Regions from separate parts of the Homo sapiens genome. Here region 2 is linked to region 1. The links come from fine-mapping of genetic effects on gene expression. A gene starts in region 1. The other region holds a variant in brackets. All regions are shown on one strand. Distances are between the middles of the regions. Region 1 holds the start of TOP3B (DNA topoisomerase III beta). Region 2 holds the start of PPM1F (protein phosphatase, Mg2+/Mn2+ dependent 1F).

Evidence for each region.
Region 2: its variant is fine-mapped to the expression of TOP3B in blood mononuclear cells (TOPMed, PIP 0.90).

What each region holds. Positions count from the first base shown.
Region 1 is chr22:21,976,997-21,992,494 of GRCh38, forward strand. TOP3B (DNA topoisomerase III beta) reads right to left here and starts at 5,791. Exons shown (of 18, transcript NM_001282112.2): 1 at 5,734-5,791. It also overlaps the pseudogene PRAMENP. RefSeq lists enhancers at 1,572-1,741, 5,192-6,178, 5,676-5,970.
Region 2 is chr22:21,944,823-21,960,320 of GRCh38, forward strand. PPM1F (protein phosphatase, Mg2+/Mn2+ dependent 1F) reads right to left here and starts at 8,026. Exons shown (of 8, transcript NM_014634.4): 1 at 7,970-8,026; 2 at 1,021-1,286. The coding sequence starts at 1,226. TOP3B (DNA topoisomerase III beta) reads right to left here. Exons shown (of 18, transcript NM_001282112.2): 15 at 14,765-14,914; 16 at 14,310-14,410; 17 at 13,670-13,871; 18 at 12,203-12,773. The coding sequence ends at 12,292. RefSeq lists enhancers at 7,179-7,248, 7,295-7,815 and a silencer at 7,809-8,218. The variant G/C (reference allele first, on the strand shown) is at 8,325.

The DNA.
Region 1 (15,498 bases):
GAAAAACATGTGCTTTTAAAATAAATCTCACAAGCCAGGTGTGGTAGCACATGCCTATAGTGTCAGCCACTCAGGAGGCTGAGGCAAGAGGATCGCTTGCTTGAGGCCAGGAATTCAAGGCTGTTGTGTGCCATGACTGCACCTGTGGATAGAACAGCCACTTCACTCCAGCCTAGGTGACAGCAAGACCCTGTCTCAAAAAAAGTAAAAGCAAAATAAAATAATCTCAGCATAAAGAAAAACTACCACCTAGATGGGCACAGTGGCTCACGCCTGTATCCCAGCACTTTGGGAGGCTGAGGTGGGTGGACCACTTGAGGTCAGGAGTTCAAGACCAGCCTGGCCAACATGGCAAAACCCCATCTCTAATAAAAATACAAAAATTAGCTGGGTGTGGTGGTGGGTGCCTATAATCCCAGCTGCTTGGGAGGCTGAGGCATGAGAATCGCTCGAACTCAGGAAGTGGAGGTTGCAGTGAGCCGAGATCATGCTATTGCACTCCAGCTTGTACAACAGAGTGAGACTCCATCTCAAACAAAAAAAAAAAAAAAAAAAAAAGGGAAAACCACCACGTAAGTACCTTTGTGGTATCACATCATGTCCAACAACACTCGCAGAAGAAACTCAGAACTACAATGAGCTTGTGCTTATCACATAGGGAGAGACTCAAAGTCGTTGCACACACAGCAGATGAGGGCATGGGGAAGTTAAATGGGAACAACCTCTATGTGCAGCAATTCAGGGATCCCTCTCAAAGTCCGAGTGCACATCCCAGCAATTCCACTCCTTGGAATGAACTTAATAGTCCAGTTATTTATTGAGTACCTACTGCATGCTTGGCCTAGTCCAGGATGCAGGGAATACAGCACAAAGCAACACCAGGTCCTGCCCTCCCAGAACTCATGCTGTAGTATGGGAGCAGGGGAGGGACAGGGCAGGGCTGGGTGACACCTGGGAGAAGAGTCCAGGCAGAAGGAGCAGGGAAGGTGAGGTCCTTGGGGAGGATATGGCTGGGCAGGGGGGCTCATGGGGCTGAGGGAGGGAGCAGGGGTGTAGAATGTGGGTCTGCTCTAGGGGTGCTGGGAGGCAGCAGAGGGTTTGCATAGGTGTGGGATAATCTGACTTCAAGTGTTAAAGGGACCTCTCTGGCTGCCACATAGAAGAGGATGAATGGGCCCTGGGTAGCAGTGGTGGAGGATGCGAGGGAAGTCAGAATCCAGGCAGACCTGGGATGGCGGGACATGGGAGGGGGAGGGGAAGGTGAGTCAAGAATGACCTGAGGCAGAGCTGGGCATGGGCTCACACCTGCCATGGGCTCACACCTATAATCCTAGTGCTTTGGGAGGCGAAGGCAAGAGGACCACTTGAGGCCAGGAGTTTGAGAAGAGCCTGATTAACACAATGAGACCTCATCTTTACAAAAAAGCAAAAGGAACAACCCATGGCTTTGGCTTAGGCATGACAGGAAGGGACTGGCAGTCTGATGTGGGACTTCAGGTGTGTTAAACGGGACCTGCCCATTGGACAGCCTGGGTGGCCTGGAGGAGGTGGCAGCAATGTGGAAGGAGCCCAGGCTGGGGGTCGGGAGATGAGGAGCTAGCAGGGTGAGTCAGGAGGGGTAAGGTCCTGAAAGCCACAGGAAAGAGCACTTCAGGGCAGTTATCACCATGTGGGGGACACTGACAGGCCAGGCGAGATGGCAGCTGAGACCTGACTGTAGGGTCTGGCAAACAGAGCCCTGGGTAATCCTGATGGGGCCATGTGGTGAGTGACAGATGAAAGCTGCATGGGGTGAGCTCAACAAAACCTGGGAGATGGGAGAAGGCTGGTGCACTGTCCCCTCTTGTTTCAGGATGGTGGCTGTGCCAGCATGTTCTCCGCTGATGGGACTGCTCTGGCGAGAAGGAAAAGAGAAGCTGCGTGCCGGAGGGGAAGGAACTGCTGCAGTGATGGCCTTGGGAGGGTGAGGGGCAAGAGAGGCAGCCGGTCAGCATCCAGGCGATGCAGAGCTGCCACAAGGCTGCACTTCTCTTGGTGGAGGAGGAGGCATGGTACGGCTGTCCACTGAGGGAGGACAGGTGGTGATGCTGCGGGCAGGCCCACAGCAGAGGAAGCACTGGATTTAGTTAGATGGGAGAGTCCAGGTGAGTAGGAGGGAGAGGGAGTGGGTCAGGGTTCGAGGGGAGAGATTACAAGGACAGAACCTGACTCTGAGTTGGGTGAAGAGGGAGGTGAGGGTTGGGGAGGGTCCACAGAGGGTGTGCTCTGTGGGGTCCAGGAAGTGAGGCACAAGAGCAGGAAGTGGGAGTCAAAGAAGCAACTCCCAGAGGGTGGGAGGCTCAAACAGGAATTACAGAGGGGCCTGGGTGGTGGCATGCTGACCCAGGGAGGGCAAGGGCTGTGAGACAGGTAGAGAGTGAAGTCACCTGGGGAGACTCACAGGAGTCAGTGGTGGGCCCTGACAAGACTGTCCATGTGGACTCTGAGTCCCCAGGAGGTAGGACAGGGCAGCGCTGGAGTGGCCTCAGGCTGGGCACGGTGGTGCCTGTGATGAACCACATCACTGGGGAGTTCTCTGCAGCATTATCAATCATGATAAAAGGTTAGAAACAAGCTGGTGTCTGTCAACAGGGAGGTGGTTAAATAAAAGCATGGCATTCTCTGGCCGGGCGCGGTGGCTCACGCCTGTAATCCCAGCACTTTGGGAGGCCAAGGTGGGCAGATCACGAGGTCAGGAGATCAAGACCATCCTGACTAACGTGGTGAAACCCCGTCTCTACTAAAAATACTAAAAATTAGCTGGGCATGGTGGCAGGCGCCTGTAGTCCCAGCTACTCGGGAGGCTGAGGCAGGAGAATGGTGTGAACCCGGGAAGCGGAGCTTGCAGTGAGCCGAGATTGCGCCACTGCACTCCAGCCTGGGCGACAGAGTGAGACTCCATCTCCAAAAAAAAAAAAAAAAAAAAAAAGCATGGCATTCTCTACAGTAGAGCACCTGGCAGCATTACAAAGGAAAGCATCTGCTTGGTACATACTAACGTGGATCAGATCACTGAAATAAATCATGCTAAGAAAGCTGGGCATGTAACGGTGTGTAGAGAGCACTGCCATCTGTGATCACACATATGTGTGCACACGTGTGCACTTGATTATGAAGAGGCGATATGTCTGGATGGAACGCAAAACAAACAGTCCAAGCAATCACCTGGAGTGGGTGTTAGGGCCTGGAGGTCAGGGCTGGGGGTGCCTCCTCACCACATTCCCTTTTGCACCTTTTACATTTAGCGCCTGGACACAGGTGACTGAGGGACAAGAACTAAGACAAGGGACTTTACAATAAAACCAGAAAAATAAAGGAGGGTTGTAAAGGGCATTGTTCAGAAAGGATGCCAAAGGAACTCCCTCACTAAAGGGGCTTCTGCTGCTCATCATGCTGTGCAGGGGAAGAGGTCCAAGGTCGGCCTTGGGCTGTCAACCTTGTTCCCCACTTAAGAGATCACAGGACTACAGTGAAATCAGTAATCTTGACCAGAAAGCTGTCCCAAATAAAATGACAATTTGCTTTTTTCCTCAAAATAAGTAAGTGGATGTTCCCCTTAAATGTACAACCATCCCACAGTGAAAGAGCCGAGGCCTTGTGGAATGACGACACTGTCTGCAGATGAGCTCTCTGGCCCATGACAGCTCCAGCTGCATCTCCCAAGGCTCTGCTGCGCACCCACCTTTCCTCCCTGTGCGCCAGCAGGCTTCGGCCTAGGCCACTTTTCCCCCTTAGTCTACTTGCTCTGACCCCTGCCCCTCCCCTCCTGAAGACTGCATCTGGCGTCAGCAGTCTGTCTCTCCCACAATTGTCAGGTTCATTGCCATATTTCTGGCACCCAGCATGCACTAAATGCCTGCTGAGGGAATGAATGAACAACCAAGGTGATTATGACTGGCCTCTGCTCTCCGTTCTGGGGAAGTTTTGATTCTACCAAAATCAGAGGCCCAGAAGTGAGGTTTAAAAGAGATTTAGGGACTCCCCTTCTCTCACCCTGGGAAGCCAGAGGCCAAAAGGGAAAACTCGCAGCAGAGGGGCATTGTTCTGTGAGGGTCTGAGTTTCCCATCTCTTCCAAAGTAGGAAATTTTGTCCTAAAATGTTTCCTCAGATTTTCTCATGTCTATGCCACAGAGTAGTCAGCAATTATGTATGACATAATGAGGACACACCAGGGACCAGGCAGTCCTGCCAGCATCCTAGGCAGGGATGCTAATAGGTGCTGCCATTTTATTGGCCTAGACTGGGACTGTGGGGTCAGAGAGACCAGAGCTCCAGTGGCTGGACTTGGTTGTTCTAGAACCCGTGCCCCAAGCCTGATCCTGTCCTGCCTCTGTGAGCACTCTGATGGAACAGCAGCCCAGCTTTGCTTCCTTGTAGCACTCATCACTACACTTGGTACAGCTTCCATCTACTTATTCAGCTCTTGTCTTACAGCTCCTAGAAAGTAAGTAAGCAGCAGGAGAACACGGGTTTTGCTTTGTGCATTCTCACGGTAAATAGACAGTGAGCAAATACTTTGCGAGGCTGAGGCAGGTGGATCACCCGAGGTCAGCAGTTCAAGACCAGCCTGGCCAACATGGTGAAGCCTGGTCTCTACTAAAAATACAAAAATTAGCTGGGCGTGGTGGCGCATGCCTGTAATCCCAGCTACTCAGGAGGCTGAGGCAGGAGAATCACTTGAACCCGGGGGCGGAGGTTGCAGTGAGCTGAGATCGCGCCACTGCACTCCAGCCTGGGTGACAGAGTGAGACTCTGCCTGCAACAAAACAAACAAAAAAAGAAACAAGCAGATGTGGCCTGGGAGTAGGCCTAGCAGTGGTCTGAATAGCATTAAAATTCCTAGGATTTACCACCTCAGTAACTTTACCAAATGCTTCTAGAATCAGGAAAAGAGGGAAACAACCATTTCTTAAGCTCCTCCTTTGTAGTAGGCACACCATAGCTATCAACACTATTCAATCTCGCCAGCAACCCCATAAGGCAGGTGTTGTAATTTTTTAAAACTGTGAGTAAATGGAGGTTCAGAACAAGTCACACTAGTGTCAGGTGACCTTGGCAAAAGAATCCCAGGACTGGCTGGCCATCAAGCCCAAGTTAGGCTGGCCTCTCAGGTCCTGTTTCAAAAGGTGAGAAGATAAAAAGGCAAGACTAGGAACATCTTACCTTTCACTTCTGCGAGAAATTATTGCCCCTGGATTCCAGCTAATTTGTTCACAAAAGTACCCTACTTCATTTACAGATAACAGGTCAGAGAACCTGGGTGCCCTCAAAACCCAGCCAGGGCCTAGGGGGCGGCGAGTGGAAGCTGCCTGGGTGTGTACCGCACCGATCTGGGCCCCGGTGGCTGCACAGCTTCCCTGAGCCTCAGTTTCCCTACCTGTGAGACTGGTACAGCAGATCTCACCCTAAAGAGCTGTGGGAGGGTTCGAAGAAGAAAAGTATTAACCACAGCGCCTGCTCCCTGCAGGCACATGGCGGGCCCATCTCCACCTCCCTGAACCCCCACAGCAAGCCCCGCGGGAGAGTATCACCCCCGCCAGGGAAGAGGCAACAAGAATGCAGAGCCCGGCCCGGGCGCTCTCCCGAGCTCGCGGGTCCTCCGCCGGCCAACGTTCAGGAAACAAGCCAGAAAAATGCGTGCGCTTCCCGCCTTTCTGAGCCGCCGGGCGAGGGTCCCGCAGCCCGCCGCTCACCCACAGCCGCACCGCGGATCCAGCTCCGGTCCTTGTTCCCGGGGCGGCTACCGACAACCCCTATTTCCGGGTCCAGCCGCTTCTGGCGTCCCCGCGTCCGGTGTGCCAGCGTCTGCCCTCCGGCTCCGGCGGGTCGGCGTTCTTAGGTTCCGTGGCTCGCGGATTCCGGGAGCACCCCAGGGAGTGGCACTTGCACGCCGCGGACCGCAGGGATCCCCAAGCCCTGCACCCAGATTCTTCCCCGCCACGGAGAGACAATCATGACAATTATCATTACAATGATTATGAAAACTGGCATGAAAACATTTATGCTGTTAATAATTAAAATAATAAAAATGTACCGATGTGTGTATAGCAGGCTTCTTTTCGATGCTGTAAAAAAATCTGTGGAATGAATGAATGATCTGTGTAAAATATATTTGGAAGATGAATTCTAAAATTAAGTTATTTATTTATTTATTTATTTATTTATTTTGAGACAGAGTTTTACTCTTGTCGCCCAGGCTGGAGTGCAGTGGTGTGATCTCGGCTCACTGAAACCTCCGCCTCCCAGGTTCAAGCAATTCGCCTGCCTCAGCCTCCTAAATAGCTGGGATTACAGGCGTGCGCCACCACGCCCAGCTAATTTATATGTGTATGTATATATATGTGTGTGTATACATATATATATATATTTTTTTTTTTTTTTTTGAGGCGGAGTCTCACTCTGTTGCCCAGGCTGAAGTGCAGTGGCGCAATCTCGGCTCACTGCAACCTCCGCCTCCCGGGTTCAAGCGATGATCTCGCCTCAGCCTCCCAAGTAGCTGGGACTATAGGCGCTTGCCACCACGCGGGCTAATTTTTTGTATTTTTTTAGTAGAGACGGGGCTTCACCGTGTTAGCCAGGATGGTCTCGATCTCCTGACCTCGTGATCCGCCCGCCTTGGCCTCCCAAAGATTTCTATATTTTTAGTAGAGACGGGGGTTTCACCGTGTTAACCAGGCTAGTCTTGAACTCCTGACCTTAGGTGGTCCGCCTCCCTCGGCCTCCCAAAATGCTGGGATTACAGGTGTGACTCTTCACGCTCGGCCAACTAATTTATTTGTTAGAGCATTAGGATTATGGAAGGTTTAAAATACGTTTTATGATCTTATTTTAAATAACATACACACATTGCCCTTGTTCCTTGTAGATTTTCCCAACCTGCTGTTTTTTTTTTTTTTTTTTTAAAGACAGGGTTTCACTCTGTCACCCAGGCTGGAGCGCAGTAGCGAGATCACAGCTCACTGCAGCCTCGATCTCCTGGCGTCAGGCGATGCTCTCACCTCAGCCTCCCCAGTAGCTGGGACCACAGGTGCCAGCCACCAAGCCCAGCCAATTAATTTTTTTTTTTTTGGTAGAGATGGGGTCTAGGGGGAGGGTCTCACTATGTTGCCCAGATTGGTCTCAAACTCCTGGCCTCAAGTGATCCTCCTGCCTCGGCCTCCCAAAGTGCTGGGATTACAGGGGTGAGCCACTGTCCCGGGCCCCAACCTGCCTTTATTGGAATGATCTGTGTAAAGTATATCTGGAAGATGAATTCTAAAATTAAGTTATTTATTTATCTAATTTATTTTGATAAATAATAAGTAGTCTGGATAGAGGCTCTGGAAAAAGAAAAGTTCTATAGGCAAATTAAGGTTTGGAAATGTCACAAATTATGAGTCACGGTGAGACTTCACTTTCAAAGCAGAACTCCTGATTCCAAACCCACACCTTGGTAGGTTCTTCGTCTCCAAAATGGCAACTCCATCTTCCTGGTTGCTCAGGGACAGAGCCTGGGAGCATCCTGGACCACCCACAAATCCTGCCATTACTGTCTTTACAATACAGATGCTCCTCAACTTCAGATGGAACTACATCCACATAAACCCATCTTAAGTTGAAAATATTGTGACTCGAAAGTACGTTTTTGACTTATGGTATTTTCAACTTACTATGGGCTTACCCAGATGTAGCCCCATCATGAGTCAAGAAGCGTGCAGAATGCATACTGGTTTTGTAGTTGAAAAATCCTGTAGGTGGAAATTGTCCTAAATCGAAGACTGTATATCGGAGATCCCCTCAAGTCTCCCTGCCTCCCTGCCACCACCCTGATCCGAGCTCCTCCTCTCCCTCCAGGTCTCCACCTTGCCGCCCTGCAGTGTGTTCTCCACATACCAGCCAGGGCTAAGATTGGCTCTGTTGGGTGCTACCAGTTGGCTGAAAGAGAAACCCAGAGGCCCTCAGCTCATTCCATCAATCCAGTTCCAGAGTTCATTGTATGGAGCCCTAGGAAGGACCTGAGGCCTGGGCCAGCAGGAGGCGCTGAGTGGTCAGCTCTGAAGGCCAGGGCGTCGGGAAGTGTTCTTGGTCAGAGCAGAGAAACTGCAGTTGCCTTGTGCTTTCTTCCCGGAGAGCCCTGCAGCTGACCCTCTGCCAGAGCTTTGGGTCAGGCTTTCTGACTGACCCTTAGGTTGACAAATGACCCAGATTCAGAGGAACCCTTCAACTTGGAGGTGTCTCCCTATTGGGACTCCCCCCAACCCCAGCTCCACTCTGACCAGGGAGATGGTGGCCTAGGATCGACTCAGCGAGAGGGGCCGTTCTTCTTTCCCCATGGCTGGGGAGAAACTGACTCCCCTAAAGAGTAGCAGCAGACTTGCCTGCAGAGGCCTCCTCTAAGGAGTGTGCAGAGGCCATGAGAGAAACTCAGGTGCCCAGACACCGCCATGGGACTTCAGGAAGCAGAGCCCTGGGGTGTTTCCACCATGGTCTTGACTTTTCTCCTCTTCCTTACCCTCCTCACTTACTGGGCAGGTGCCTGGTTATGGTGGATGGGATAACTGAGGGCTCCTGGACCTCTCTTCTCTCTGGTTCGGCATAGGCTGGTCCATGATTTTGATAATACTATTAATAGTTAACATCATGCAGTGCTTACTTACTCTGTTCTAGGCACTGTTCTGTTACTGACACAATCCTCATTACAACACTAGGAATTAGATATTATTATTATCCTTATTTTACACATAAAGAAGCAGGACACATAGGCCAGGCGCGGTGGCTCACGCCTGTGATCCCAGCACTTTGGGAGGCTGAGGCGGGCGGATCACCTGAGGTCGGGAGTTAGAGACCAGCCTGACCAACATGGAGAAACCCCGTCTCTACTAAAACTACAAAAAATTAGGTGGGCATGGTGGCGCACATCTGTAGTTCCAGCTACTCGGGAGGCTGAGGCAGGAGAATCGCTTGAACCCAGGAGGCGGAGGTTGCAGTGAGCCAAGATCATGCCATTGCATTCCAGCCTGGGCAACAAAAGCAAAACTCCATCTCAAAAAAAAAAAAAAAAAAAAAAAAGAACCAGCAGGACACAATGATGGAAGTGGCAGAGCAACCTAGTTCCAGAAGCCACTTTTTTTTTTTTTGACGGGGTCTCACTCTGTTGCCCAAAGTTCTGGGATTTATGGGCATGAGCTACCGTGCACAGCCTTAAAGATTACTTTTTTTTTTTTGAGAGGAGTCTTGCTCTGTCGCCAGGCTGGAGTGCAGTGACACGATCTTGGCTCACTGCAACCTCCACCCCCTGGGTTCAAGCGATCCTCCTGCCTCAGCCTCCCGAGTAGCTGGGACTACAGGCACACACCACCAAGCCCAGCTAATTTTTTAAATTTTTAAATATTTTTTTATTTTTAGTAGAGATGGGTTTCACCATGTTGGCCAGGATGGTCTTGATTTCTTGACCTTGTGATCCACCTGCCTTGGCCTCCCAAAGTGCTGGGATTACAGGCGTGAGCCACCGCGCCTGGCCAAGATTACTTTTTGAAGTTTGAATAAAAGGGCAATGAAACCTGCGCTGAAGAACAGGAAATTGACTGGCTGTGTGCTGAGGCCATCCTTCTCCCCTGTCTGGGAGGGGGACTTCTGTCACTCTGCTGTCCCCAGAAGTGGGTGGAGCTTAAAACGTCACAGAAGCCCAAGTCATTTGCAGGGTACATGGAGAAACAGCTCTTGGCAGCCTGTCCTATGACCTGAACTCAACATGTCTTTTTTTTTTCTTTGAGACGGAGTCTCGCTCTGTCACCCAGGCTGGAATGCAATGGCGCGACCTCGGCTCACTGCAACCTCCCCTCCCGGGTTCAAGCAATTCTCCTACCTCAGCCTCCTGAGTAGCTGGGACTACAGGTGTGCGCCACCACGCCCAGTTAATTTTTTAAATTTTTAGTAGACATGGGGTTTCACCATGTTGGCCAGGTTGGTCTTAAACTCCTGACCTCGTGATCCGCCCACCTTGGCTTCCCAAAGTGCTGGGATTACAGGCGTGAGCCACCATGCCAGACATCACCATATCTTTATACTCCTTTCTTCACAAAAGAAACAACTGAAGAACAACCAGAAGGTGCCAGCATATTCTGTGAACACCAGCAAAAAACCCACGTAAATAAATGGTGGCAAAAGTGAACTCTTTACACAGGAGAAGCTACCTCCCTGCCTCGCCTAAAATGTCAAAGGATATCATAGTGACAAACATGAAGCCGATATCCATAATAAATTTTATTTTGCCCAGTGACATAAAAGGCAAGTCAGATTACTGTTGGAATGATGAATTGTGTTGATTTCAATTCTTTATAATATTTTCTTATTTTAAGAAGAAATTCTTGTAGTGGTAATTTTGGGATATGACTAAATGAATGTGCCTTTCATGTGGAAGAATAAACAAACAAGAATATTGGGCCAGGCATAATGGCTCATGCCTGGAATCCCAGCACTTTCAGAGGCCAAGGTGAGGGGATCACTTGAGGTCAGGAGTTTGAGACCAGCCTAACATAGTGAGACCCTGTCTAAAAAAAAAAAAAAAAAAAAAAGATTAGCTGGGCATGGTGGCATATGCTACTCAGGAGGCTGAAGCGAGAGGGTGGCCTGTTCCCAGGAGGTTGAGGCTACAGTGAGCTATGATTGCACCACTGCACTCCAGCCTGGATGACAGAGTGAGACCTTGCCTTAAAAAAAAAGTCAAGGAGGATGAGGAGAGAATGGGGAGATAAAAATGTTACCAGCTAGTACAAAGCCACAGGAGCCCAAGACAGGCCCATGAGATAGATGGAAATGAGAGAAGGAACATCTCTGAGAGCTCGCCGCAATAGCCATGTTGGAAAACATCTGTCCACTCATATCTTCCTTTATTCTCACACTCATCCAGTATTTTTTGGGTACCTACTAATTTCCAGGCATTGTGGATACGATGGTGAATGAAACGGAAAAAAAGTCTGCTCTCTTGGGCCTTACTTTCTAGTGATCTGTGATAATTATCTCAGAAAATGTATATCAAACACACAGCACAGTGTATGACAGTCAACAGTCAAGGGCTGGCCACCACTACTTTGATAATCATGTTGGTTTCATGTTTGCAGTGACCAAGAGTCAGGGGTTAACTGAAAGACCCAAACACGTATCCATTACTCAGATAACTTTCTCTGTGCTCCAAGCTGACTTTGCCAAATAGTACAAGCAACACCCCTAATGCTGCAGGGTGCACAGTGTCTCTGTAGTGATGGCGTGAGTGGTTTCTGGGGGTGCAGGCGCCACCTGCTTCCTCGGTTGTTTCTGGGGAGCTGGCACATGCTGCCTTTGTGTGTGGAAGTGGGTGTGGTGCAGGCCGAGGCAGGAGGATGCTTTGGAAGCAGGGAATATCTGGGAAAGCAGTTGATCTGGCCCTGGCCCAGAGATCCCTACCCACCACAGTCCTGCTTCTACAGGGCAACAGCAGGCAACCCATTCTTTTCCTCTAATCCTACTGAAATGTTTGGCTTTCTCCCTCCCTCCCTTCTTTTTCCACTCTCCCTCTCCTCTTTCCTGCATTTCCTCTCTTGACTGAGGCCTGCGTGGGGCTTGCTGGTGCATCGTGCACCTACTGCTTCTTCCTAGGGATCCCCTGGAGATGACTGTCCACTCACCACCAAGATGGGGAAGGACTTATTGAAAAAGACCCACATGACCACCACTCTCCCGAAGATTTTCCATGGATCATTTCCCTGAATGCTCCCACCAAGCCTCCCAGCCAGGTTCCTCTGACCACTCTACTTTGCTATGGGAACTCAGAAGTGTCCCTTCTTTTCCAAGAGGGTTTACTAGATGCCAGGCACTGTTCTCAGCATGTAACCCTTCTAAATAAGTAACTTATTCAACACACACGTAATGGTGTGAGGTAAGGACTATGATTAACTTTGTGATTCAAAATTCTTAAATTCATAGATGAAGAAACTGAGGCACAAAATAGTGGATGCAAATCACAGTCAGCTCTCCTAACCCCAACCCAGAGGTTGAGTTTTGACCCTCGGCCTGGACTGCAGGAAACCTTCAAGCAAGCTCTCAAGTGGGTGCAGCAGGAGGAAGGTCTTATGATCTTGGGGAAATTTGGTCCAGATACTTCCAGGAGCAAGCATCCTCCCATATCTGACTAAAGAGCAATACTGACTCAGGCAAGAAGAAAGTGAGTGGTCAGGGTAAGGAGGAAAGCGAGGCTGAGGTCATGGCAGCACCTGTGCCCTGACACTGCTGGAAAGACATGTCACCAGAAGGTACCTACAGGAAGCAATGGGATTTCATTCATGCAATCTGATCTTACGCTCTGATAGTGTCATGTGGAGCAGCTGCAGTTACATGCCTGCGTGGCTGCATCGGAGAGAGGCGCATTGTGTGGATCAGAGGCAATTAGCCAGTCAGGGTTTGGGGAGGCATCTGATTTTTTCAGCACAGCAAGGAACGGCACAGTACATCGAGCCCCCAGTGCATTTCTCGGTATCTCGATCTTCCTCTACTTGCGCTTTTCTGTTCCTCTGCCTGGAGGTTTTGCCTCCATTCTAGTCTCTGCTCTAACACAGACCTTGTGTGTACTTTATCGCAAACAGTTCCCTTTCCACCCCTCAGCAGCGGGCCCCACTCCCTTTGTTTTGCCCTTTCTCAATCTGAAGACGTGTCATTTACCTGCCAGCTTGCTTATCTGCATGGAGCCCATGCTCCACTAGGGCACGAACTTGGAGTTATTTCTGCTGCATCCTCTGCCCTTGCAAAAGTACCTGTCACCTGGGAGGCACTTAGCAAGTACTTGTTACCTAAATGGACAATGTGAAAAATCACCATGCTCCACTCGCAGGCCAGGCTGCTGGAGATGACTGTATGGCCTCTGGACTGGCCCTCTGAGCGTGACCGATACACAGAGGAAGGTGGGTGCACAAGGACTGTGCTATTCTGTAGGAATCCTATGAGGAATCTGCTGGGCACTATCACAACCTGGAGTCAGGGTAGTTCAGGAGGCGCTGAGGCTGCTGCAAGATGGCTCATGAGAGCAGGCAAGCTCCCTCGCCTGGATGGAAGCAGCACTCAGCAAGCAAGGCACTGAGGACCCTTCCGCTAAGTGAGGCTTTCTTACCTATCTCTGGTTCCAGGGTTTACATGGGTGGAACCAGGATGCCTACAACAGAGCTTCAGCAAGGACAGGCAAACAAACAGAAACTGACAAGTGGACTAGCAGAATGGACTGAAGGCTGCTCTGTAAACTTCTCCCACCCAGCAGTAATACTCTGGCTTTCTATGGCCCTGTGTGTCAGTTTGGTCCAGGCCTTTCTATGAAGCCCCTGTACATATCTTGGTCACTCATAAGTTCCCCTGCGTCTGCCTTCTGTCTCCATCTACATCAGCCTTGACTATATTCCACCCACATGGTGCTGGGGGCCTGGGCCTGTGAACCTCTGACCTGTCCTCTCCTGCCAGACTCAGGCCCAGCTCTCAGCTGCTGCTGTTGCCGGGCCCCTCCCAGGGTGCCTGACTCCAGATCTCTGCCACAGATTCAGGACTGGACTCAAAGGTCTCCTCTCTGAGGTGCCTTCCCTGACCTGCTTTGGCAGCCACTCCTGATTCTTCTGACTTTGCCCTGTTGTAGGGACTTCCTAAACGGTTGTGACCCATGCTCTCCATGTATGCCCGGTCTGAGGACAGCAGCGCCTGGCCCAAGCACACGCTCGATGGTGATCAGCTGACTGATGGCCGCGTGCTCTGGGTTTGGTGCCAGGCATGTGCCTCCTTCCAGTCTCCCAACAGCCCCCAGAGCTGTTCAGACCTCCAGTGCACAGCTCATGTCCAAAGGTGGGGAAGTCAGCTAAGGACCCACTTCATTCTACCCAGAAGCATAAGACAAAGAGAAACTGAGTGAGTGGCCAGAAGAGGGAGTGTTCGCCAGGGAGGGCTGGACCTCTGGGGTCTCTGGTGATCTGGCGGTAGAGCCACCTGGATAACGTGTGCCGATTGAATGAACAGGTGAAACAGGCCAGGCTTTCGACTGGGGAAGGGGAGCGAGAGGAATGAAGAAAGCGCCAGATAGTTCCCATGGAAGTTTATTTTATGTTCCTTGCAAACAACATGTGGCCTCAGCTGTGATTCCAGCTGCCCTCTCTGACTTCTGTTCCCTGAGCCTGGCTCCTGTTCTTCATTCAAACTGCACCAGCTGCATAAGCAAAGACAGTGGAGGGGCTCCACTGCATGTCAGCCTGCTGCATGGCTTGCAGCTGCTTCTGTATCTCGGCCTGCAACTGGCACAGCTTGTCCTCGTTCACAGGACCCCGGCAGACGCCATGCAGGTAGATGCAGCAGTCAACTGGGATGGGATAGAGTACCTGCTTCAGCTCCATCAGCCCCATGGTGTGCTCCAGCAGGCTCAGGAGGCAGGCACTGGAGATGGGGTTGTCGGAGAGGCTCAGGGAACTGAGGTGGGAGCAGCGGCACAGGGCGGGCAGGAGGGCACTGAGGTGGGCATCCTTCAGCCAGCAGTGTTTCAGGTCTAGGTGCTGCAGTGTCCCTGAGACTGCCCTCAGCAGGGTACCCAAGGGCCCAGGGATCATGTAGGACAAGTCGTTGACGCTCAGATCCAGCTTCTTCAGGCAGGTGGTATGATGGCTCCGGGACAAGTAGGTGATGTCAGTGTCCAGAAGCTTGCAGTTGCAGATCTCCAGGGAATGTAGTGGGACCCACAGACAGCTGAGGAGAGAAGGGTGGCTCTGTGAGGGGAGGGCCCAGGCACCCCACCCGGAACACCTATTTGTCCATGGAGGAGGCTAGTCCTATGGCCACCCCCTCATCAGGGAAGCCATTTACCAGCAGGGTCAGGAGCATGTCCTTTGGTGTCCCAAGGCCTGGCTCTCTCTCAACAGACCTACCAGGTCCTCCACGAACCCTTCTAACTCTAAGTTTCTCTTCGGTGAAAGGGAGATGCACATTATCCATACCTAATAAGACTGCTGAGAGGAGCCATTTGAAAGCGCTTATCTGATGAGAAGTAACCATAGGCTGAGGCCATTATTCCTCAGGTTTGGGTTTGGGGAAGCTGCTGCTCAGGCTTCCATTTAAGCCAGGGCTGGGGGTCCTGAATGCCCTATCTTGAAATTTCTAGGAGACGTGCACAGAGTGGATACTGATTGTCCTTCAGGGCTCTGTACCCACCTGTCTGGGGCAGTATGAGCTCAGAAGAAGAGGCATAACCTGTGCTGTGTCAGGATCTTTTCTTGGGGACCAGCATAACATTCAGCAGTGCCTGAAAATGTTTGTTGAGTAAATAAACATATTATTAGGAAAGGCGCAATGGCTCACACCTGTAATCCCAGCACTTTGGGAAGCCGCAGTGGGTGGATCACCTGAGGTCTGGAGTTCAAGACCAGTCTGGCCAACGTGGTGAAACCCCATCTCTACTAAAAATGGAAAAATTAGCCAGGCATGGTGGC
Region 2 (15,498 bases), 32 kb before region 1:
AGGCGACAGCTACACACTGTCTGCCGGTGGACACCCAACTCTCTATCTTCCCCGAAATCTGCTCGGCTAGTTGTGCTACCTCTCTGTGCCTCAGCTTCCTCACCTGTGGAAGGGGGACAGTGCCAGCTATCTCTCAGATCGTGGTGGCTGGGGTGCCATGTGGCTCTGCCACTCCTTGACTGTAAGGCCTCAGGCCAGCCTCTTCATCTACCCACCTCTGCCTCCTCGTCCATCACACGGATCGGAAACAGGACGTACTGCTTATCAGCTGCTATGCAATAAATTGTGTTCCCTAAAAGGTATGTTGAAGCCCCAGCCCCCTGTGGCTCAGAATATGATCTTATTTGGAGTTAAAGTCTTTGCAAATGTAATTAGTTATGTTCACATGAGGTCACATTGGCTGGAGTGGCTCATGCCTGTAATCCCAGCATTTAGGGAGGCAAAAACATGAGGATCCATGGAGCCCAGAAATTCGAGACCAGCCTGGGCAGCATAGCGAGACCCCATTCTCCACAAAAAGAAAGATGAGATCACACTGTAGGAGGGCAGCCCCTGGTCCAAAATGCCCATGTCCTTACAAGAGGAGGAGTCACAGACACACAGCAGGCAGGGTGGGGAGGTGTGAAGGCACAGACACACACATGGGGAGATGCCGTGTGCAACAAGGCCAGCTAGGAGGAATGAGTCTACAAGCCAAGGACCTCCAGGAAGTCAAGGCCAGGCACTAACAGAAAGGCAGACTCTTCCCTGCAGCCTTTGAGAGAGCATGGCGCAGCTGCCACCTTGATCTTGGACTCTGGCCTCCAGCCCTGTGAAAGAATGAGCTTTGGCTGTGTTGAGTGCCCAGTGTGTGGTGCTTTGCCATAGCAGCCACGGGAGTTCCACATGGTGCTGCATAGGGATCCGGGGCTGCAGATCCCCGTGTGGGGCTGGACGTGTAGGGGAGCAGCAGCCACATCCCTTGTCGGCCCTGGTGCCGTGCCCTTACTCCCCGTCCCCTTTGGGGGTGCACAGGCCTACCTGCTGCCCAGAAAGCCCATGGCCAGCTCAGCCAGCTCGCCCTCCACCTCCTCCTGGCTGAGCACCGTCCCTGGGGCCTTCCATGGCAGAGGGTCCTCTGGGTTCAGCAGGGCTGGGAAGTCTTGCAGGAGCGTGTCCAGGAAGCCTGGGGTCTCCTCAGCTCCACTGGCCATTGGGCTGCTCTTCTGTGGGGCTCCAGAGGACATGCCCAAAGCATCCCGGGGGCCTGCAGCTAGGCCAGGGCAAGAGGGTCTCCAGGCTTCACCCTGGGGAGAAATGTCAGAGTCAGCAGAATCAGGGGGCCATGGCACCAGCAATGCAGGTGCCCACCTGCAAGCACCATGTGGCAGGTGCATGGCCTCATGGTTCAGGGCCACTAGAGGGTGGAGGGACAACCCTGGCCACTGTTTTGACATGAGTCCAGGTGGGGACTTGTGGGCATCCAGAGATCCGGTCTCAGGAGATGGTGCCAGGAGCAGCAGCTGGGTGGACATTGTCAAGAAGTGACAGAGGAGGAAGACTGTTCCTGGCAGAGGGTGGCCAGCGTGGCCAGAGACGAGCAGGACAGGGATGCCGAGGCCAGGCACTGAGGTAGGTGAGGGGGTTCAACCTGATCACGGGTCCCGAGCAGCCAGGAGGGCTCTGAGGTGAGGGAGTGAAGCCACCAGGTCTGTGAGCCTGGACGTGGTGACCAGATGGCAGGAGGGACACCTGTTGGGGCTCTAGTGGTGTTCAGGGGAGGAAAGAGAAGGGCCAAGATGCGGGAGGCCGGCCCAGGGCTGTTTTGGAGATAGGCCAGAGTGGGAGCAGGAAGGGATCCCCAGAGGCTGCTGGGGCCACCCAAGGGGTGGCCAGGAGAGAAGCAGAGGTTTAATCTGGGACAGACAGGAGGTGCTGTGGGACACCATCGAGCCTATTCAATGCTCTCTAATAGGAGGAGGGAATTGTGAGCCTAGAATGGCTCAGGCCTGCTAAGCCCTGGCTGGAAGAGGGGCACTGTGGACAGTTCCAGGCGCTGACCCCACTGTGCGGCATGTGGGCTCTTCCTCCCTAAGTCCTTAGGGATGACCAGAGCTGACCAGCCCTGGGAGTTGCCCCTAACACCCCAGGAGCCAGGACAAGCCCCCATTTCACAGATGAGAATCCCAAGGTTTGGAGAGGGTTAGTCCCTCGCCTGAGGTGTCAGAAGGAAGACAGGGCCAAAGAGGGATCGCAAAGCCTGTGCCTTCACTCCCTCACCGGCTTCTCTCTCACTGGAAAGAGGCACATGGTGCCTCACAGCCTCCTCCCAGGGTGGCTCTGGCTCCTCTTCTCTCCTAACTCCGAATCTCCATAGTCGCCTCCCCAGCCTGCCTGCCTTGCCTATACCCAAACAGCTCTCCAGCGCCCCCCCTTCCATGTTCTTTGCGTCGCCCCGGGGATTCACCTCCAGGCCCCACACCTGGGCCTCCCTGCCAGCACCCACTCAGCATGGACCCTTCTCTCTCCTGCCCCCTTCCTCTCGGGTGCCTGACCCCTCCAAACCCTCCCCACAGCGGGGACTCCACCTTGGGCTTTGTCTAACACTCAGGCTGGGAAACTTTATTCAGCGAGTCCTACGCAGTAGTGGATGAGATTGGATCCAGAAAAAAATAAAAAAGAAATCCTACACAGTTACTAAGCCAGGGAGAAAAACTGCATTCTTTTATGGTGACAAACGGACATGAGACTCTGAGGAACACCCCGAGTTCTAGGGTGGAGAATTTGGGGAACAGTTTCACAGCCCATCACCTTCATGAGGACTTCCAGGTTCTGAAAACTGAACGAAGAAGGCAAGGAGAATCTTCTAGAATCATCAGTCTTAGAATAGCCACAGACTCTGCCTACAAACTTTGCTAAAAGGGCGGCTGTGGCAGGGGCCTGAGGTGCAGGATGAAGAGAGTGGGAAGTAAGAGATGCAGGGAGCTCACAGCCCACAAGAGGGCTGTCCTTATCAGGAATTGCTAACTTGGAACAAGCCTTCTGGAAGCCTAAAGATAAAAAACACAAAAGAGAATGGGGTGGGCAGAGGGAAAGGTCCCAGCACCAAGTTAAATGTCTGATCAGTGAGGGATTTGGAATGCAAGGGGTGAAGGGTGGTAAATTAACAAAACACAAAACCCTTCTCTTCTTTTAGAGGCAGAATTGAAAGGTAATTTATTTAAAGTGGACACATACAAATAACGTAGGAATAGGGGTGCTTGCTACTGAAGGTTCTGGGGATAGACTAAATTTATTGCTATGGTTCACATTTACTCACAAGTAGGAGTAAATTTAATGCAACCCAGGTTACAGAAGGCAAGCAGGTAAAAGGATAAAGAACATAAAACAACTGGCAAGGCGCTGTGGCTCAGGTCTATATCTCAGCGCTTGGGGAGGGTGAGGCAGGAGGAGTGCTTGAGGCCAGGAGTTCAAGACCAGCCTGGGCAGTGAGATCGCCACCCCCCCCCCACCCCCCATCTCTACCAAAAAAGAAAAAAAAAGAACATAAAGCAAAAAAGGAAAAATCACTTTGAGAGCAGGAGGGACACTGACATTCAAACGACAAAGGGAAGACTGTGAGCTGGAGAAATGAGCAGAGGCTGGGAGCCCTAGTAGGTCAATGAGGAGGCGGCACGTCCTGCCAGCCATGCCCCAGCAGAGCTGTAAGGCATTCGAAGATGGCGTGAATTTCCCAGCAAGCTTGGCTGCCCTCAAGCAGTGCAAGCGGCCAAGGGCCCCTCTTCTGCCTGGGACTGCCCTGGCCCCTGGAGCTTCTGGGAGAATGTGAACGATGCAGAGCTGCCCCCAGCAACTGCCAGTGCCTGGGGCCTCCTCCCACTCCCTTGCAATTCCAAGTGATCTGGAGGCTCTACTGTCTCACCACAAAATGTGCTCATGTGAATTTATGATTAGGATCCAAGTGAGAGGACAGCATGCTCCCCGCTAGAGCACACAGAGGGCCCCCCTGGAGAAACCCCTGCCCACAGTGTAAAGCCCCACTGTCAAGGGCAGAATTCAAGACCCTTCACTTCCACCCCATTTGCTGGTGACGTCTGCTGGACCTTTTGGGATGCAGGTGCCTCCTTCTTGCCTCCTGACCTTGGGGTACTCTTTCCTGTGCCGTGAGCCCCTCCCCACAATCGGCCTGTTCCCTCAGGGAGGGTGGCTCCTCCTGTCTGCACTACAGACCCTGATTCACTGTGGCCACCTGCCTGCTCTCTCTGTGCCTTGTGCCCACTATCTGCACATGCCTCAATGGTGTCTGTGCCATGTGTACTAAGTAAGGTCTGGGGGGTGTGATGATGTGTGTGTGTGAAGCTCTGTCTGCATCTGTAGAGGGGACAGGCTGGCTTACTCTCAGGGCCTGTGCCAACTGCCTGCTCTTGTTACAAAGGCAGGGTGCCCAGGGCCATCTTACTTGCTGGGGACCAAGCACCCTTGTTTCTGCATCACCAACCTAAGGCAAGGGGTGAGGAGAGAAACCAGGACACAGCTTTCTCTCCCTGGAGCCCAGATGTCGAAAGGGACAGGAATCATTTCCTTCCTTTTCCCAATAAGCTCCTGAATCTGACGTACACCATGGCACACCCGGCAGGAAGGAGAAATTCCTCACCAAGGGAAACCAGAGGCAGCCCTGGGAGTGCCTGGAGGGGCAGGGGACAGTGCTGTGGTTCTTTGAGGGATCAACTGGAAGAGACAGCATCAGGAATGGCATGGAGGCCAGCGGCAAGCCGCAGGGAGTAGGGAGAGCTGGGAGAGCACCAGAGGCAGCGGAGCCTGGTGCTGGGCTTTCCTGAGCAGGGCACACCAGTGAAAAACTCCGAATAAGAGGGACGTGTGCATGAGCCTGTGCAAATCACCAAGAGCCCGGGGTGGGCATGGGAGGGACATTGGACTCCTGCATCCCAGCACCGCCTGCCTGGACCAGTCTGACCAAATGCGACTGGCAGCTGGTTCCTCCTGGATCAGGGCCCCACTGCACACCAAATGGGTGCTCACCCTCCTAGAACCTATTTAAGGTCCCACATAGGTGAGAAATGGCAAAGCAAACTCATCGGGGGGCAGCTGCAGGGGTGTGGCTGACGGTGCTGCCAGCTGCCATCCGCCCCTGCTCTGAGCACTCTTCCTGGGATGGCTTTTAGCCTCCCAACAACCTCTTGTGGTTATCCCCACTTCACAGGGCAGGCTGTAGCAGAAGAGCTAAGGAACTTGCCCAAAGTCCCAGGGTGGGGTTCATGCTGGGGAACCTGGGCCTTAACTGTGATGACACCTGGGAAGTCATTCTGACTCCTTCTATCCCTGACCTGTCCCTCATTGGCCACCAGCTCTGGGCTTTGGCTCTCTCATGGCTCCTCCTTCCATTTCTGTGTACCCCCCACCCTAGGGCAGCCCCTCCCCTCCTTGTTTTGTGGTGCCCTCCTTCCATTTTGCCTCCCGAGATCTCTCAGATCCTTTGAGGCTTTGCTGAAATCTCCCCATCTTTGGATCCAGCATGCTCTCTTTCATGTCTCTATGGCACTTTTGCTCACATCTGACTTGTAAAAAGTTTTTTTTTTTTTAATTTAAAATATTTATTTTCCTCTAGTGCATTAGTTTTGACTCCTAAGCTTAACGAATGCAGGGTTTAACAACTGCAGTTTTTTAGGGGACATAGAAAAAATACTTGTTGAGTCTTGCTTAACTGCAGAACCAAGGTAATGAAAAAAACCCAGCAATCCTTAGAAAAGGGAACTGCACCACTATAGTGTAACAAAAGCATCATTCATGTTAACTGTTTTTTTTTGTTTTTGTTTTTTTTGAGACAGAGTCTTGCTCTGTCACCCAGGCCGGAGTGCAGTGGCGCAATCTTGGCTCACGGCAACCTCCGCCTCTCAGGTTCAAGTGATTCTCCTGCCTAAGCCTCCCTAGTAGCTGGGATTACAGGCACCCACAACCACGCCTGGCTAATTTTTTTGTATTTTTAGTAGAGATGGGGTTTCACCATGTTGGCCAGGCTGGTCTCGAACTCCTGACCTCAGGTGATCTGCCCGCCTCAGCCTCCCAAAGTGCTGTGATTACAGGTATGAGACACCACGCCTGGCCAACCTTTTTCTACCAAAAGAGATTCTTATTTCTTTATTCATAACTACTAATACTAATAATAGTTAGATGTAAATCCTAGATTTTTTTTCTACATATATAAATTTTTTTTATTGTTGTAAAATATACACACTATGTATCCTTTTAACCATTTCTAAGCGTACAGTTCCATGGCATTAAGCATAGTCACATTGCTGTGCAATGACCATTTCTTTCTACAGGCCTGACTTTCTTGATAGACTGTAAGCTCCCTGTAGTCAGGGAGCCCACGATGGCCCTTTGTGTACAGCAGGTGGTAAGTGTGATGGCAGAGGGAAGAGTGACTGGCGGGTGGCATGGGCTGAGGAAGCTACACCACTCTGAAGGGTGCAGTGGGCAGCAGCGCCAGGTCTTAAAAGACTCGGTTGGCTTCAGGTCAGATGGTATCCTTTTTTTTTTTTTTTTTTTTTTTGAGAGGGAGTTTCGCTCTTGTTGCCCAGGCTGGAGTGCAATGGTGGGATCTCAGCTCACTGCAACCTTCGCCTCCCAGGTTCAAGCAATTCTCCTGCCTCAGCCTCCTGAGTAGCTAGGATTACAGGCACCTGCCACCACGCGCGGCTAATTTTTGTATTTTTAGTAGAGATGGGATTTTGCCATGCTGGTCTGGAACTCTTGACCTCAGGTGATATGCCTGCCTCGGCCTCCCAAAGTGCTGGGATTACAGGTATGAGCCACCGCGCCCGGCCTTCAGGGGGTATCTTAAAGGAATTCCACAAATGAACTTGTGTAGAGGTTCATGGCTTTCAGAAATGCATTCGTTTTGTTTACCTCTCACAACTACGCTGAGAAGTACATACTGTCAGGCTACACTGCAGATGAAGAAATAGGTTATAGGAGGGCAAGCACCCATTTAAGGTCTCACACAGGTGAAAGGGCAAAGCGAACTCAATCAAGGTCTCTGGATGCCCAATGCCTTTGGTATTTCCACCTCGCGTGCAGGAGGAAAAGAGCGAAATTTGACAACAGAAGAGACTGGAGATGGCCTCAGAGTGCTGGCCGGCCCCACTTTCTATCCCCCGTGGTGAGAGCTCAGCTGGGCCCAGAGAACTTGTCCCGGGGAATGCCACCACGACATGTGTGACTCTGTCCCGCAGGGTGGAAGGCTTCGAAGGAGCCCGCCACCATGCAGTGGGCCTCACTGTGTGTCAAGCGCTGTGCCGAAATCCCTGCAGCCGGAGCCAGTTCTTCCTGTTGTACAGACAGGTTCAGGGGCTTGCCTGACCGAACCCAGCGGCAATGTGCCCGGCCTCCGCGCCTGAGGCTCTGGCTCACAGACCTGTGGCTGAAGCAGCTGCAGCCCGAGCACTTGTGCAGCTGACGCTCGCTTCACGGACGCTTGGGAGGCCGCGGAGCCGGGGGCCATCAGGCAGACTGGGCCCCTGAAGGTGCAGGGACTGGGGGGATATGGGGCAACGTGCCGGCCCAGAGGCTCCTGGGGGGTGGGGAGAGGCCAAATCTCGGAAAATGGGGCGCGTCCCCCTCAGCACCCGATTCTGCCTCATAGCCCTCGGTCCCTACCAGGCCCTCGGCTCGGCCACACCCCCGCCTGCCCCCCAGTTCTGCCCCCTTGGCTCCCCAGCCCCCCAACTCCCAGCCTCGGGTTCCTCATGTCCGCAGCGGCCCCTCTTGCTCCTCGGCCCCCCGCACTGCACCCCCGCACCCTTTCGGTGCACCCATGTGAGCCTCGTCTCGGCCTCCTTGCCTCCCCAGCCCTCTGATTCCACCCCTCCGGTTCCTCGGTCCCATTTCACCCCTGTGCGCCTTGGGCGCTCGCCTGACCCTCGTCCCAGCCCCGTCAGCCCTCTAATCCCGTCCCCCCCGGCCTCCTCACCCCTGGTCTCCGCGGGCCTCAGCTGTCTCCTCGCGGCTCCGTGTCCCGCAAGCTGCTGCCGGCCGGCCCCGCCCACTTCCCGTCCCTGGCCGCCGCGGGCGCCGCGGGCGCCGCGCAGGCGCAGTCGGGCCTCCAGGCTGGCGGGGCCGGACCTCTGCTGCCCCCTGGCGGCTACGTGGACGGTGACTGCGGCCCTTTAGTGGTAGGCGAACTGCGGCTCCACCTGGGCTCCGGAGCCGCCCCAGTCACCAGCCTCTTGCTTCTCTTCTGCAGCTTTGGGTGGGCGGCTGGATGGGGAAAGCAATCCCTAGGTCACAGCGCCCAGAAATTAAGCAACTTCTGCCGTCAATAGCTG[G/C]TAAGTGACAGAGCAGGGATGCAAACCCAGACTGCCCAGGCAGGCTCATCCGTCCGGGAAGGAGGCACAGTCCCAGGCTCATTATGAGTTGTTTGTTTCCACAAACGTTGAGGCTTTTGTTATCTTTCCGTTCTGGAGGTCAGAAGTCCACTTAGCCTCAGTGGGCGAAGATCCAGGGATCGCCAGAATGCGTTCCTTTCTGAGGATTCTAGGGGAGAAACTGTTCCCCTGCCTTTTCCAGCTCCTAAGGGCTCCCTGCATACCTTGGCTCGTGGCCCCTTCCTACAGCCTCGAAGCCAGCAATGGCCAGTTGAGCCTTTCTCACACTGCCACCTCTGGTTCCCTCCTCTGCTTCCTTCTGCTACTTCTAAAGACCCTCCTGATGCCATTGGGCCCACCCAGATAGTCCAGCATCATCTCTCTAAATCAGTTGATTAGCAACCTTAATTCCCCTTTGCCCCTTATTATTATTATTATTTTTTTTTGACACGGAGTCTCACCCTGTCACCCAGGCTGTACTGCAGTGGCATGACCTCGACTCACTGCAACCTCTGCCTCCCTGGTTCAAGCGATTTTCCTGCCTCAGCCTCCCGAGTAGCTGGGACTGCAGGCACGCACCACCATGCCCGGCTAATTTTTTTTGTATTTTTAGTAGAGATGGGGTTTCACCATGTTGGTCAGGCTGGTCTCAAACTCCTGACCTCAAATGATCTGCCTGCCTCGGCCTCCCAAAGTGCTGGGATTACAGTACAGGCGTGAGCCACTATGCCGGGTCTGCCATGTAATCTAACACAGGCACAGGTATAGGACATGAACATCTCTGAAGGGCCATTTTTCTGCCAACACAGAGGCTCTTGAAAATATTCTTTTTCTCTCTTTTTAGAGACAAGCTCCTTCTCTGGTGCCCACACTGGAGTGCAGTGGCATGATCACAGCTCACTGCAGCCTCAAACTCCTGGGCTCAAGTGACCCTCCCCTCCTGCCTCAGCCTTCCTAGTGTCTGGGAACACAGGCAAGCACCACCACGCCCAGCTGATTAAAAAAAATTTGTAGAGACAGGGTCTCTATGTTGCCCAGGCTGGTCTTGAACTCTTGGGCTCAAGTGATCCTCCTGCCTCAGCCTTCCCAAGTGCTGGGATTATAGGTGTGAACCATTACACCTGGCCAAAATATTTTATTTTAAAGGCAGAAGAAAGAAACCTTTATGTCAAAGAAAATGTTTTAATATATGATATTAATATATTCACCTTTATACCAATGCCGTTGGAAAGTATAATTTTTTAAATGGAGGATGGGGCACCAGATCTTATGTGGCTCTGCCCACCTGACCTTCAGGTCCGCAGGCCTGTGTCCTTGCCAGGAATGAATGTCTCTGGGATGCTTCTCTAACAGGAGGAACCTGGAGTGAGACCAGGAACCTGGAGAACTAGCAGCTGGGTGACTGGAAAGGAAACCATCTGGGGTGGGGTTGGGTCTGCAAGGCAGGAGGTGTCTGGGCAGAGAAAGCAGGGCTGGGGCGGAGGGTCCTGCCTCATCCCATTCTCCTGCTCACTCTTTCCTAGATCCCTGTCAGGGCAGTAACCATGAGCAAGGCTTGAGGCTACTTCTTATAAACAGTGGCCCTGGGCACATTCCTTAGCTCACCTGAGCCTCAGTTTCTTGATGAGAAAAAATCGGGACAATAGCAACCAACCTATCTCAGAGGGCTGCTGTGAGACCCTGAGCCACTGTTTCTCAAACTGCCCCTGAGATCACCTACAACAGAATGGCTGTAGGGTGAAGTTTGAGAACCGCAGTACAGGTGAGGTGGTGCGTGGGGCAGGCCCTCCCACACTGTAAAGTGCAGTGTGGTGCGGTAAAAGCTGATATTCCCGCAGGCATCCTCAGAGTGGGCCCAATTAGACTCTTGAGCACTGATTCCATTCAAGGTCTGCGGCTTAGAGAGGATGGCAAAGTGAGGCACCACCAGGAGCTTGTCCCTATGGGCTCCAGGCCAAGGACGTGCCTGGAGATGACTCCTGCCTTGTGGCGCTGTCACTGCCTCACTGTCCACATTCCATCACGCCTCAGATCCTGGCTTCCACCCTGGTGAAAGGAATCTTTCAATATCACCCACCCAGCCACAGACGCTTCTCTGCTTCTCTGGCAAGGCTGCACCCCTGGCTAGGTGGGCAGGGCCAGGGGCTCCTTGAGACAGTCTGCAGCCACTGACCTCTCCAGCCTCCAGGGCAGAGGTACAGTCCCATGGAGCGTGGCTGATCTGAAGGCAGTTCTGGCCTAAAAGGGGTCTTGTCCCTTCCTTGTCCTCATTGCTCCCAAGGCCAGGTTGGCAGCAGTAGCAGCGGGGTTGGATGCTATTGGATGGGAGAAGGTGAATGGACTCGGAGTGCAGAATCAAGCTGCGGAAGCCAAGGGCCTTGAAGGAGGGTCACACACAAGGGACAACTGCAGAGGAAAATAAAGGAACACTTTGTGATTAGCCCTGCCTGTGGCTGAAAGCGCAGTGCAGAAGCATAGTAAGGAAGGACTGGGTGGTCTGGGTTTAAGACCTAGGAACCGTCTCTGCTCCTCCAAGCCTGAATGAGCCCTATAACCTAAGGGTCCTGGAGGTCTTGAAACCTTCTGCGGAGAAGGCTCCAGGTCCACTGGGCCCTGTGGGTGGAAGAGCAGAGTCACAGCCCCGCACTGGGGACCTAACAGGTGTGGCCTTGCTAGGGCCCCAGAATGGGACCAGAGTGGGTGGGAGGGGGCAGAAGCTCTGAGAGCACCCCCTCCTTCCTGAAGCCTGTGCTTCTGAGACACATCCCAGGACCCTCTATGTGGTTCCCCATGTCTCTGTATTTTCATTCAGCTTCGAGTAGCTCTCCAAACTGTGTTCCAGGGAACCCCCGTGTTAACCTGTGAGGGCCTCCAGGAAGGGGGTCCAGGGGGGGTATGCTTGGTGGGCTCTGGGTTTCCTTACAGGAGCTCTCATATAAGTCCTGGTGCAGCCTGGGAATCTACTACTGAGTTGGGGCGGGGGCGGGTCTGAGTCCGAAACATTCCTGACCTGCCCCTCAAAGAAAGGTCCCACTGAACAGTCTGGAAAGCTGTTTTGCTGAGCTCCCGTCATCACTCAATGAGGCACGGGCGGAGTGTGGAGGGAGTTTCCAACACACAGTGGATCCCGCACAGGTGTCTCTCCTCGGGTGGCTGGGGAGGGGAGCACAAGAAGGCACTGAGGTCAGAGGGCAGCTGCCACCAGCACCTGGCACCACACGGCAGTCTGGCCTACAGGGTATTTTCTAAACCTGGCATGTGAATGGGTTCCATGGGGCACCCAGCTGCCTCTAAGACCATAAGGGCTTGTTGTGAGAATGGGAATTGCAGCAGGTCCTGGGAAGCTGCCAGACGCACACGGGCACCATGTACAGGGCTTCTCAGAGATGGGAGCAGGGAGCAGGGGACGGAGAAGTGTGGGGTCAAGAGCGTGGCCCTGAGCAGGGGGCTGCAGCGAAGACCAAGGGGATTCATAAGCCAGATCCGGGGAGGGGGTCTCCCAGCCCCACCTGCTCCACTAGACTCCTCTCCTGCCGGAGCCACAGCTGTCAAGGCCGCCTTCCTTAAGGCATCAGGGCCACTGCTTGTGCACACAGCTACCATCAGCAGCACGGATTGAGATGGGGTGTGAGTGCAAACTGGGTCTATTCCCCAGGGCTTCAGGGTTGGGGCATCCCTGCCCGTACTGCCAGGGTGTAGGGATAGCAGGGAGCACTCTGGGCACGTGTATGCAGGCTGAAGGGAGACGTATTGGGTTTCGGAGAGGGAGAGAGGGCCCCACAGGTGCCCAGGGACACGGTAACGCTCTGACATCGCTGCACCAGCAAAGGGGCCCCAGCTCTGGATAAGATAAAATGCATTTTAATAGTTTGAAGTGCCATGAGGTGTCTGCATGGCACTGCAGCCTGGGTGAGGGAGGACAGGGTCATCATACAAAGTAGGCGGCCAGGGCTGACATCTTGTCCTTGGGCCGTCTGGGGTTGGGCTTCCCAGGGGGCCTCCTGGCCCGGCCCCGCCCTCGACCCTGCCTTCTCCCTGGTCCACCGCGGTGCATGGGGTGGCAGGAGGCCGCATGCTTCAGCTCCACCAGCTCCTGGAAGACGGGGTCACAAAAGACGCAGCCCATGTGCTGCGTCTCATCGCCCGGGAGTGGGGACTTGGCCTTGTTGAAGTCCACATCAAGCAAGGCGGCCTCACAGACACTGCAGGTGTCGGCGGACACCCGCACGCGGTGGGCGTTCTCGAAGCAGTGCGCTACCACGTTGCACTTGTTGCAGGCCACCTTCCACTTGGGGCCCGAGGTGGGGTCCAGCACCAGCACCCCGCTCTCACATTCCACGCACTGGCCGATGCCCAGCATGCTCAGCGAGTGCTGGCAGGAGGGGTGCGTACACTCGTTGCAGCCCATGCCTGGCGGGAGAAGGGAGCCCTGTAAAGGCACGCCCACTGTGCCCACCTGCCCTCTGCTGCCTGCTCCCAATGCCTCAAGCTCCTGGATCCCTCGTCCCAGCAGAAGGAACTCTTCTTGGCCTTGCTCTTGGGGACAGCCTTGCTCATGTTTCGGCTCCTGGCTGCCATTACCCCTGTTTTCTGCTTACCTGAAACCTCCTCAACTTTCAAGGCCCCTCGCTGGCACCATCCCAGTGGGTTTCAGCTGACTCCATCCCCCCTTTGCTTTGCTGCCAGCTTGTTACTGGTAATGCCACATGACCCTCATGTCACTGGGCCACATGGAACCACCCTGTCAGCTACTCTGGCGGCAGCAGGAGGGCAGGGATGGGGTCTCACTCCCGGGGCAGCCTGGGTGCAGACTGAGGCCTGAGGGAGCTTTCTGCAGAGCACACGGTGAATGTGGGCAGATGCCTCACTCCCGCTGATTCCTGGTCTGGCTCGGTGCTCTGTCCTGCCTGCCTGGACATGCGCTCCCTCCTCCAGTAATGAGGACGAGGATGAGGATGGAGGACGGTGGTGGACGCTGACTGGGGGTGCCCGCTCACCGGGTGGGTCCCCCGACTGCTGCATCCTCTTGCTCACTCAGCTCCAGAGGGAGCACTGCACACCTGTGCCCAGGTCCTGAGGGTGGACTAGGGTTGCCTGCTCGATTCTGACACAGAGAGAGGGTGGCACCACTGGCTGAGGCCTAAGCAGTGCCCCAGCTACATCCAGGGTCTCTCGTCTCAGTGCCAATGAGTGCAGGAAAGGCCAGGGTGAGGGGTCCCCTCAGAGTCCAGCCTGGTGCAAGGCAGGGGTTGGCACTGAAAAGAGACTGCAGCTACCTGTGGACAGGAGGGAGTGGCTGCACTCACCTTTCTTCATGTCTCGGAAGGGTGGGTGGTTGTAGCAGTAGGGGCACAGCGGGTAGCTCTTGCCCCGAGAGCCTGATGACCACAGGACCAGCTCGAAGTCATCCAGAGGGCAGCGGAGCTCCTTGTAGAGCTTGATGGTGCCGTTCTGGGGGAGCGTGTAGGTCTCATCGCAGTGGGAGCAGTGCAGGCGGCTTGGCTTGGCCTGCGGCAATGCCAGGCAGGTGGCGTGAGGGTCACTGGGGCCACCGACTTGGCACCCACCCCCACTCCTCTCATAATACAAAGTATGTAATCTGTCATGCAGAACCTGTGACACACTGCCAGGCAAGGAGCATGAGTCTCTGGCTCTTGCTCCACGCGTGCAGAAAAGGCAGTTCTAAAATCTCTGTGTGTACATTAATGCCCATGATGGCAAGTGGCATGGTGTTAGGGAAAAATGCACCATGTGTGTTTGCGTGGCCTAATGGCTGTGTATTCTAGGGGACGTGGGGACACTGGGTATTTTTTGGCAAGGCCTCTTTATGTTCCATCATTCTTTTGTGACAACCAGGACAAAGAACATGATTCCTGCTGATCAACGATAAAGCTGAGGCCTACAGGGGTGAGGCAGCTTGCCTGAGCTAGTGTTCCCTGCACCTACCTGGATGTACTTCATGAAGCGGTGGCACTTCCCACAGCGTGAGAGGGGCTTGCCTGTGGCCGCCAGGGGCGAGAAAGACACCTCCATCAACTCATCCATGCCTGCGGGCAAGCAGAGTGCAGGAGTCATCTCCCTCCCAGTCCCCAGCAAAAGGCTCCGCAACACGTGGTCAAGGGTCTGAGTGTGAAAGGGTCCCTATAGGCGGTGGTTTCTACTGTCCTGGCAGCACGGCAGGGCAGCAGCCCTGTGCGTCAGAGGCACGTGTTCCTGGCCATGTGTGGTGTTAATGCACCTGCTCTTTCAACCCAGCCAGGAGGTGTCACTGACCTGGCCTACGGAGGCCTGAAGCCCAGATCTGGGAGCTGGTCCCACGTGGGGACCTGGGTCCCCAGGTACTGGCCTTGCTGACAGAGAGACACCCCTCTGGTGAGGGGCAGGCCAGAGGCAGACTCTACCAGCAATGGAGTCGACAAAGTAGTGGAACTTCCTCTTGAACACGTCCAGGGTGTGGCCCAGGACCTGGCGGTAGTCGGCCTTGCCCTGGGCGATCAGGTTCAGCTGCTTCTCCACTGCACTGCGGATGGTGGGGAGCACCAGCTCTGCATCTGCAAGTGGGCAGGGGGCAGATATTGCCCTGAGCACTCGCACCCAGGGCCATGCCACCCCTTCCCAGGCAGGGATACTGCCCTGTTCACCCCTCCCGCTCTGGCCCGTCCTCCTGGCCTCTGCCCTACCCACCAGTCCACAGCCTCAGATGGTACCAGGCTGGCTCTTATGACCCCAGACCTTTCCTGATTTCCCACCTGGAAATGTCAGGCAGAGTGGCCAGGGATGTCCTGTGGCTAGAACCACATCACACATGAGCTCCAGGCCGCCCTTGGGCCAGTTTTGTGCTCCTCCCTCTCCCCTTGGCCCCTGGGGAACCTCCAGGGAACAGGGCTGAGGCAACTTCGCCTCCCTTTTTGGTTCCCTCACACATCTGTTCAGCCTTCAAACACACTGAGCTCCTGCTCTGGGCAGGTCCTGGGGGTCCTGGGGCAGCACCCCTTCAGCGGGTGTTGAGGGAGTGTGTGTGGGGCTGGGGGATCACTGTAGGGCAGGGGCCTGTCTGGAGCGGGCAGCAGAGCCAACATCCAGGGAGAAGCCAGGGAGCCTCGGTGGGCCCTGGGGGCAGGACTGAGGAACTCAC